2 separate regions of the Homo sapiens genome follow, and region 2 is linked to region 1. The links come from fine-mapping of genetic effects on gene expression. A gene starts in region 1. The other region holds a variant in brackets. All regions are shown on one strand. Distances are from middle to middle. Region 1 holds the start of SEC23B (SEC23 homolog B, COPII component). Region 2 overlaps POLR3F (RNA polymerase III subunit F).

Region 1 (4,402 bases):
TTCCCCTCTTGTTGTGGGAGTAAAAAAATCTTACTACCTTTGTAAAGTTTTAATAAGTTATATTATTTCATGTCTTAAAGGAGCTCTGTTATAATTCACTTATGGAAACAAACACATGTAAATCAATTATTTCTAAAATTCCAGAAAATAAGTAAATTAAACTTATGCATGCAAAATTTCTTAAAAATGCTGAAACCATCCTGACAGGGTTAACAAGATTACAAGCCAGCCTTTAGGCAGGTTAGTTAGGCACTGACCAGGGTGCATTGGTGCCCTTCAATTCACTTCCCTGCAGCTGCTAACTAACCAAAAGCCTTGCAGCACACTGATCACCTACTCCCTGATTGCTCCTATCCACAGAATCTCTGACACTAGCTCTTTGTACCCAGGAATTGCTTAAGGTATTTTTCAGATCCTGAATTCCCACAAAACAGCTGATGCCAAACTGTCTAGGGATCCCCACCAGGAAGGGCACAGTGGCTCACGCCTGTAATCTTAGCACTTTGGGAGGCCAAGGTGAGAGGATCGCCTGAAGCCCGGAGTTTGAGACTAGCCTGGGCAACAAAGTGAGACCCTGCTTTACAAAAAAAAAATTTTTTTAAATAAATAAATAAAGACCTCCACCAAGAAACAACACTGGAATGAAGTTTCTTCATCTCCCTGTCCCATGACTTCACCTCTCACTTCCTGACCAATCAGAAATCCCCACACTTTAGCCCATTGCCCCTCCAGACTTCTTAAAAATGCCATCTCTAATCTCTTGGGGAGGTGGATTTGAGGATTGCTCTTGTCTCCTCATTTGGCTGCCACTTGATTATGGAACTCTTTATCTGCTGCAACTCCTATTCTTTCTGTTACCGCACAATGGACAATCGAACCTGATGGTCCTATAACAATCTTTCTTACAGAAATTGCTAGTACAGAAAGAATCCAGGTTCAAATAATCAAGGCAAATCTTTGGCGAATAATATTAAGTTTTGGTTAAAAAAAATCCCAGCTATGTCTTTTCTCAGTGTTAAGTATTATACATGTGTACATTTTGAGTTTGTTTCCTTACCGAGAATAATTAATCTGAACTTCCTAAATTTATAAAAGTTTACTATTGATAAGCTAATATTAACATTACATTGTTTAAGATCCTGAAAAATGTGAATTTGTTCAACAAAACTGAATCATTCTCACATTTAACAGTAATTGTTTCTTTGTGCCTTAAACTATTAATAATTTCTATGATCTGTAGATAACTTAAAACTTAGTATTAAATTGAGCTAATTAATGGATACTTCTTGGATGCCTAGATATGTTCTTGCATAATTTTATGTTTACATCGTTTTGCTTATTTTTATATGCTACAGAGACTACAACTCTGAGTCACAGTAATGATGTGTTCATGTTTGCCACTTGTCAGCGTGTGTAAAAATGGTTGTGGTGGCTTTATACAGTTGTGTTCTATCGCGCCTTTTGCAGCAACATGGATGCATCTGGAGGCCATGATCCTAAAAGAATTAACGCAGAAGCAGAAAACCAAATACATGTTCTCACTTGAAAGTGGGAGCTAAGCATTGGGCACACATGGACACAAAGGTGACATTAATAGACGCTGGGGACTACTAGAGTGGGGAGGGAGGCAGGGAGGGGCTGAAAAACTTGGGTACTATGCTCAGTATCTGGGTGACCAGCTCATTCGAATTCGAAACCTCATAGCCAGGTAACAAATACGCAGTGTACCCCCTAAATCTAAACGTTGGAATTATTTTTTAAAAGAAAGTTATGTTCCATGTATTTCTAAGCTTACTCTCCTAAAATGGTTGAATATTACAGTTCTCAATTATTTATCTCCATGTAGAAGGATGACAGGGACTGTGCGCTAGTGCCAGCCTCCGCTGAGAGCGCCAAGACATTACAGCAAGCGACGGTAGGAGAGCTTGTAACGTGAAGCACCACCACACCTCTGTACTTCAAACTTAACCACAGAGACCGACTCCCAAACCAGCAAGTGCGTAAGCGCCGCCGCGCTCACCACCCGCCCCGCCCCTTCCGCATGCTAATGCCTTCTTCCGGCAGCCTTAGTTTCTTCCAACCAGTGCAGCTCCCTGTTCCGCGAGCATACGTCATCGTTCTCGCTTTCCGGTAGCTAAGGCGATCAGCGGGACTTCCCACTGAGACGAGCGGATGTCATATTGTATCAGGGCGAACCTCTGAGGAGCGCTGGCTGCGCTTAGGCAACGGTGCGGCAGGCGCCGGGGTTTTCTGAAACAGAAACGTTTAGGGGTGGGGAAACGTGTTCCGAGGAACTCTCGTTTTGAAGTGCGACATACACCTGTCTTGCCCTGTTCCAAGATGGTGGCAGAGCTTCTCTGAGTCTCTCGCTTCCTCCAGTCCGTCGGAGAAGCGCTCTTTGATTGGCCAGTGGACAGCGCCGTGGCATGACGCGCTGGGGCGCTGGCCAATCGGTTGAGAGCTGAGCTGGACTTGGCGGTGGGAGCCGGAGCCTGCTTGTTGCAGCTGTGGGTGAGGACGGCTCTAGCTAGGTGAGCGGCTCCGGCCAGGTGAGCGGGGCGCATAGGTGACGGAGGGCCGAGGGCACGGGTATGAGTTTCTGCCGGGGGCGAGGTGAGCGGCTTCTGGGAGGAGGCCTTTTCTTGACAGTTTAGGGTAGCGGGGGAATGGATGATCCGGGAGTCCCCTGCGGATGTCGTCCCGCACCAGGCCGGGACCGATTTCTGGCTCCAGTTTCCCCAGAATTGCGGAGTGCGCACACCTGGAAGGACCCAAGTCCCGTTTTATAGTTGAGAAACTCAAGACTCAGACAAGTGAAACGACTTTTGCTTCATGACAGCTGGAACTGGAACCCAGGTCCTTGGACTCCCTTCAAGGATTAAACCTCACTTATTCTTACATACACATGGTCACTGTGTCCTGAGAAGTTACGAGTTGGCGCGATAAGGGTGGTTCAGATTTTTTGGCATATTCTCCTGTTATCTTTCCAGGCCTTTCATTCATTCACTAATTCATACTTTCAGTTATTTACCTCTTCAGATACCTTCCCCGATACTTTGGTAAAAGCTATGGACCCATCTCCCTAGAAAAACGGCATATTCCCTCATGCGCATAACTTCAGATGATTAGTGGACCTTCTATAGTCCCCTTGGATTATGTGTCCACTGCTAAGAATCCAGACCCTAGAAGGGTGAGGGAAACAGGCAGTAGGAAAAGGAGGGAGCAGGTCTTAGGCTGTACATGCTTGGAAACCATTAGATGGAGGCAGTAGCTTCTTTTTTTTTTTTTTTTTTTTTGAGATGGAGTCTCGCTCTGTCGCCCAGGCTGGAGTGCAGTGGCGTGATCTCGGCTCACTGCAACCAATGCCTCCCAAGGTCAAGCAGTCCTCCCTGCCGCAGCCTCCCGAGTAGCTGGGATTACAGGCACCTGCCACCACGCCCAGCTAATTTTTGTATTTTTAGTAGAGACGGGGTTTTGCCATGTTGGCCAGGCTGGTCTTGAATTCCTGACCTCAGGTCATCCACCGGCCTCGGTCGCCCAAAGTGCTGGGATTACAGGCGTGAGCCACCGCGCCCGGCCGCCAGTGCCTTTTAATAAAGAACGTTTTGAGAGAGAGACGGTTATTTAATGAAATCTGCTGACATACTTGCTGAGAGTTGTGATAGAACTTGCTTTCATTCCGACTTTAGTTATCCCTTTGCTTCCCATGAAGCTCCAGAGTGCTTCCTGTGCACACAGTGCTTCAGGTTCTTGCCGTTGCCAGAAATAAACAGATTTCTTAGAGTTTCAGTTGGAGCAAACATTGGAATTCTTGTGTTCTGGGCTTTATGTAGTAGAGTAATTCATTTGCTTTTCTAGCCATGCAATATTATTGCCTTAATCAAAATTATTTACAGTATGGTACTTCCCAAAATAACAGACAGTTGTTATCCATATTCAGGAAGTGGGCGCGAGAGGCCACTTTAATTTGATAGACTCTTTAATTTGCCTTTTTACTACTTTTCTTGAGGGGCTTGTTCCCTTGAACCCCAATAGCTGAGTTGTGTGTTACCCTAGATTTTAGGATATGAACAGGATGTATAAATACTCAATGAAGTTGGGATCATCTGGGTTTGAGAGTTTAGCCTGTAGGACAGTTTTACTGACCACAGTCTTCATTTTTTTTTTGAAACAGAGTCTGGCTCTGTCGCCCAGGCTGTGCAATGGCATTGTCTCGCCTCACTGCAATCTCTGCCTCCCGAGTTCAGACGATTCTCCTGCCTCAACCTCCTGAGTAGCTGGGACTATGGGCACGTGCCACCACACCTGGCTAATTTTTGTATTTTTAGTAGAGACGGAGTTTCACTGTGTTGGCCAGGCTGGTCTTGAACTCCTGACCTCGTGATCCGCCCATCTCAGCCTC
Region 2 (4,402 bases), 32 kb before region 1:
TATTCAAAATAAATAAAATTTAAGTTTTTTTTTTAAATCTGTACCTTCTAGCTATATGACCATGGACAAGTTACTTAAACTTTGTGAGCTTCAGTTTCTTTATCTTATCTATAAATTGTGGATGCTGACACCTCTCGTTTTTGCAAGGACCAAAAGGAAAGCTGGTGTGGTGTAGCAGTGTCTTAACAGATGTCCCTCCGCAGCTATAGTTTCTCTTCTACCCGCTTGAAGAACTGTATCTAAATTGCAATCCTAAGTTACAATAATTTGGGATCTATTTGAGTCATTGATATTAGCTGGAAAAATTGAGATGTAATCTGAAATTACATAACTAATTCTTATATTTATTAAAATTAACATTTTTAAAAATAGTCCTATGAGAAAGCCATTCTGCATATTTTTTTAATCTTCCTATCTCATATGCCATTACATTGGGAAGAAAATAAAGCAAAATATTTACATACATTCCCTTTCCATATATAACACTTATTTCCTTCTTTGAAAAAGAAATCATTGCTTCTCACACAGGGCTTTTAGCAGCCATAAGAACCCTAGGCTTCCTTTTCCATCTCACAAATACAATGTTGTATAAATAATGGATTACATGCATGCAGACACTCATCTAAAGAGTGTTTTTGTCCCACTTGAGGATGGCAGTTGACCTTGACCCAAATTTAAGTTTGTATTTCACATTTACAATCTAAAATGAAAGTATCAGAAAACAGAGATAAGGGTACAGATGATAAAATTCCATTGCATCCATGATTTTTCCTTCCATTATAAAAACGTCGTTTTCATAATTTTTTTTTTCTTTTTTTTGAGATGGAGTCTTGCTCTGTTGCCCAGGCTGGAGTGCAATGGTGTGATCTCGGCTCAGTGCAACCTCCGCCTCCCGGGTTCAAACGAGTCTCATGCCTCAGCCTCCCGAGTAGCTAGGACTACAGGTGCATGCCATCAGGCCCGGCTAATTATTTTTGTATTTTTAGTAGGGACAGAGTTTCACCATGTTGGCCAGGCTGGTCTCAAACTCCTGAGCTCAGGTGACCCACCTGCCTCGGCCTCCCTAAGTGCTGGGATTACAGGCATGAGCCACCATGCCCAGCCCTTTCCATAAGTTTTTTAAAAGTTTGCCACACTGGGATTCCAAGAAATTTCTAGTTAGAAATTATAAATCATTATAATAAGTCTTACAAAGCATTATACTTATTTATTGTTTAGCATACTTTTGCTACTTTAGCCAGCATTCTTTACTGTTAGCTTTATACTGCTAGCTTTGGAATGAGACACAAGTTAGAGGAATAACATTAAAAATCCATGAAAACCAGAGTTCAACTTATTTTACTTTACTTTCTTATAGGAATATGGAGCAGAGATATCCGCTATAAAAGTAATTTGCCATTAACAGAAATCAACAAAATTCTGAAGAATCTGGAAAGTAAAAAGCTTATCAAAGCTGTTAAGTCTGTAGCAGTGAGTAGTCCTTTCCTCAGATACCCACTTACATATGTTGCTTCAAGTTTTTATTCTTGAAGTTATGTCATGATTTAGAACAGCTGGTCAAAAAAGACTTAAAAATTTAGCTCATGTTGGATTGGTTTGGAGATGCTGCTTAGACTTGTCCCTACACAGTTAGCTCTTGGTGTCTCACTCACCCACTCAAAAATCTAAAACTACTTTACTGTCTTCAGTGAAGAATCTTTGGAACTGTGAACATTTTTCCTAGATTTTGTGGTGTGTAAGATAATTTACTTTATCCCGACATATTAGCTTTCTCATTCAACAAAGAGTGTTTGCTGTGTGCCAGACACTGTTTTGAGTGCTTGGGATACATTAATGAACAAGTCGTAGAAAGATCCCTGCCTTGGTGGAGCTTCTCTTCTAGTACACGTGTGTTTTTCCTGCTCCTCATCCTGCCCCACCCCTGCTCCAGAGCTGGCTCCCTCGGGGACATCTGCCCCTGACCTCACTGATTTAGACATCAGAGGAACTGAGATTCCCCTAGAATAAAGTTTGCTTCAATACACATTTCATAAGAATTACAGCTATAATTCAAATTTTATAATTTCAGAGCTGTTAGGTCTGTGGCAGTGAGTAGACCTTTCCTCAAATATCCGCTTACATATGTTGCTTCAAGTTTTTATTTTTGAATAAAACAAGAATTATAAGAATTATAACATCACTTATAAGAATTTGATGCTTATTAGTGATTTTATTTATCAGAATAGCATTTCCCTTCCACATTGTTTAATGGATAATTTCAAATATATACAAAG[G/A]TAGAAAAAATCATATAATAAAACCCTATCATGTAGCCTCATTTTGTCAGTCCTCCTTCTACATCTTTATGTTTAATAACAGCTCTGCTGAAATATAATTCATCATTCATACTACAGAATTCATTCAACCTTTTAAAGTGTAAAATCTTTGGATTTACAGTCACTGGTTTTTACTATAAGCTAAGAGTTGTGCAACCATCACCGCTGTTCTAATTTTAGAACATTTTCATCACCCCCAAATGTGGCCACTAGTATTTGTTTCCCAGCCTCTCTTTCCATAGGCCCTAAAAACGAATAATTTATTTTCTGCCTTTATTATAGATTTGCCTATTCTGGACAGTTCCTATAAATGGAATAATAGAATATGTAGTCTTTTATGTATGACTACTTTGACTTAGCATGATGTTTTCAAGATTTATCCATATTGTGCTTTATTCCTTCTTATTGCCAATTAAAATTCCATTGTATAGATGTATATCACCTTTTGTTCATTCATCCGTTGGTGAACTTCTGTGTCCTTTTAAGGGTTAAAATAATCTTAGATCTCAGTGTAAAGTGCAAAACTATAAAACTTTTTGAAGAAAACATAGAAAATCTACATGACCTTGGCTTTGTTAATGAATTCTTGGACTATAACTCCAATAGTAGTCTATGAAAGAAAATGTTAATAAGTTGGAGTTTATCAAAATTTTTTGAAAACCTCTGCTTTGCAAGACACATTAAGAGAATGAAAAGACAAGTTACATACTAAAAGATATTTGCAAATCACATATTTGATAAAGGACTTGTCTCCAAAATATACAAAGAACTCCTAAAATTCAGCAATAAGAAAACAACACTTTGGGAGGCCAAGGCGGGTGGATCACCTGAGGTCAGGAGTTCAAGTCTAGCCTCACCAACATGGTGAAACCCTGTCTCTACTAAAAATACAAAATTATCCAGGCGTGGTGGCACATGTCTGTAATCCCAGCTACTTGGGAGGCTGAGGCAGGAGAATTGCTTGAACCCAGGAGGCAGAGGTTGCAGTGAGCAAGATTGCACCATTGTACTCCAGCCTGGGCAACAAAAGCGAAACTCCATCTCAAAAAAAGAAAAAAAAAAAAAAACACACAATGAAAACAAATAATCCAACTAAAAATGAGCAAAAGATCTGAACCTCACCAAAGAAGACATACAGATGGCAGATAAGCATATGAAAAGATGCTCTACATTATTTTTCATTAGAGAACTGCAAATTAAAATAAAATTTAGTATAGTGAGATACCACTACACACCTATTAGAATAGCTAAAATCTAAAAATTGGTAATACCATATGCTGACAAGATACAGACCAAGATGAACACTCATACATTGCTAAGAATGCAAAATTTTCAGTCCTTTTGTTAAAAAACTGGGCAGTTTTTACAAAACTAAACAGAGTCTTACCACATTGTCCAAAGGTCAAGCTCTTAAGTATTTACCCAACTGATTTGAAAACTCATGTCCACATAACTACATGAATATTTATAGCAGCTTTATTCGTAATCAGCAGCTTTATTCATAATCAAAAACTGGAAGCAACCAAGGTATCCTTCAATAGGTGAATGGATAGACAAACCAGAATAGTATTCAGTTATAAAAAGAAATAAGCTATCATGAAAAGATATGAGTAAATCTTAAATGCATATTGCTAAGTAAAAGAAGCCAGTCCGAAAAGGCTACATACTGTATGATTACAACTATATGACATACTGGAAAAGGCAAAACTAGACAGACTAAAAAGATCGGGGTGAGGGCAGGGATGGTAGGGAAAGTTGAATAGGTGAAGCATGAGAAATATTTCTAGGGTGGTGAAATTATTTTGTATGACAGAAGCATTAACCAAATTTGGAAGCCCACCCAAGCTTTGCTGTCCAAAGTTTTTATTAGGGTTTCATTATACAGGCATGATTGATTGAATCCTTGGTCATGTGAGTGAATTCAATCTCCAGCTCCTCTCTTCTCCCAAGAGATTGGACTGATGTCATGTGGCCCAAAGCCCCAACCCTCTAATCATGCGGTTGGTCTTTCCAGCATGGACAACTCCTATCCTGAAACTATTTAGAGTCCTATCAGGAGTCACCTTGTTAGCATAAACCCAGGTGTGATC

Evidence for each region. PIP is the estimated chance that this variant, and not a neighbour inherited with it, causes the effect.
Region 2: its variant is fine-mapped to the expression of SEC23B in whole blood (TOPMed, PIP above 0.99).

The regions. Positions count from the first base shown.
Region 1 is chr20:18,505,442-18,509,843 of GRCh38, forward strand. SEC23B (SEC23 homolog B, COPII component) reads left to right here and starts at 2,499. Exons shown (of 20, transcript NM_006363.6): 1 at 2,499-2,531. RefSeq lists enhancers at 2,040-2,369, 2,720-2,769.
Region 2 is chr20:18,473,718-18,478,119 of GRCh38, forward strand. It overlaps POLR3F (RNA polymerase III subunit F), which reads left to right. Exons shown (of 9, transcript NM_006466.4): 5 at 1,358-1,470. Among named protein-coding and RNA genes, the nearest start is that of MIR3192, 5.3 kb to the left of the region's middle. The variant G/A (reference allele first, on the strand shown) is at 2,274.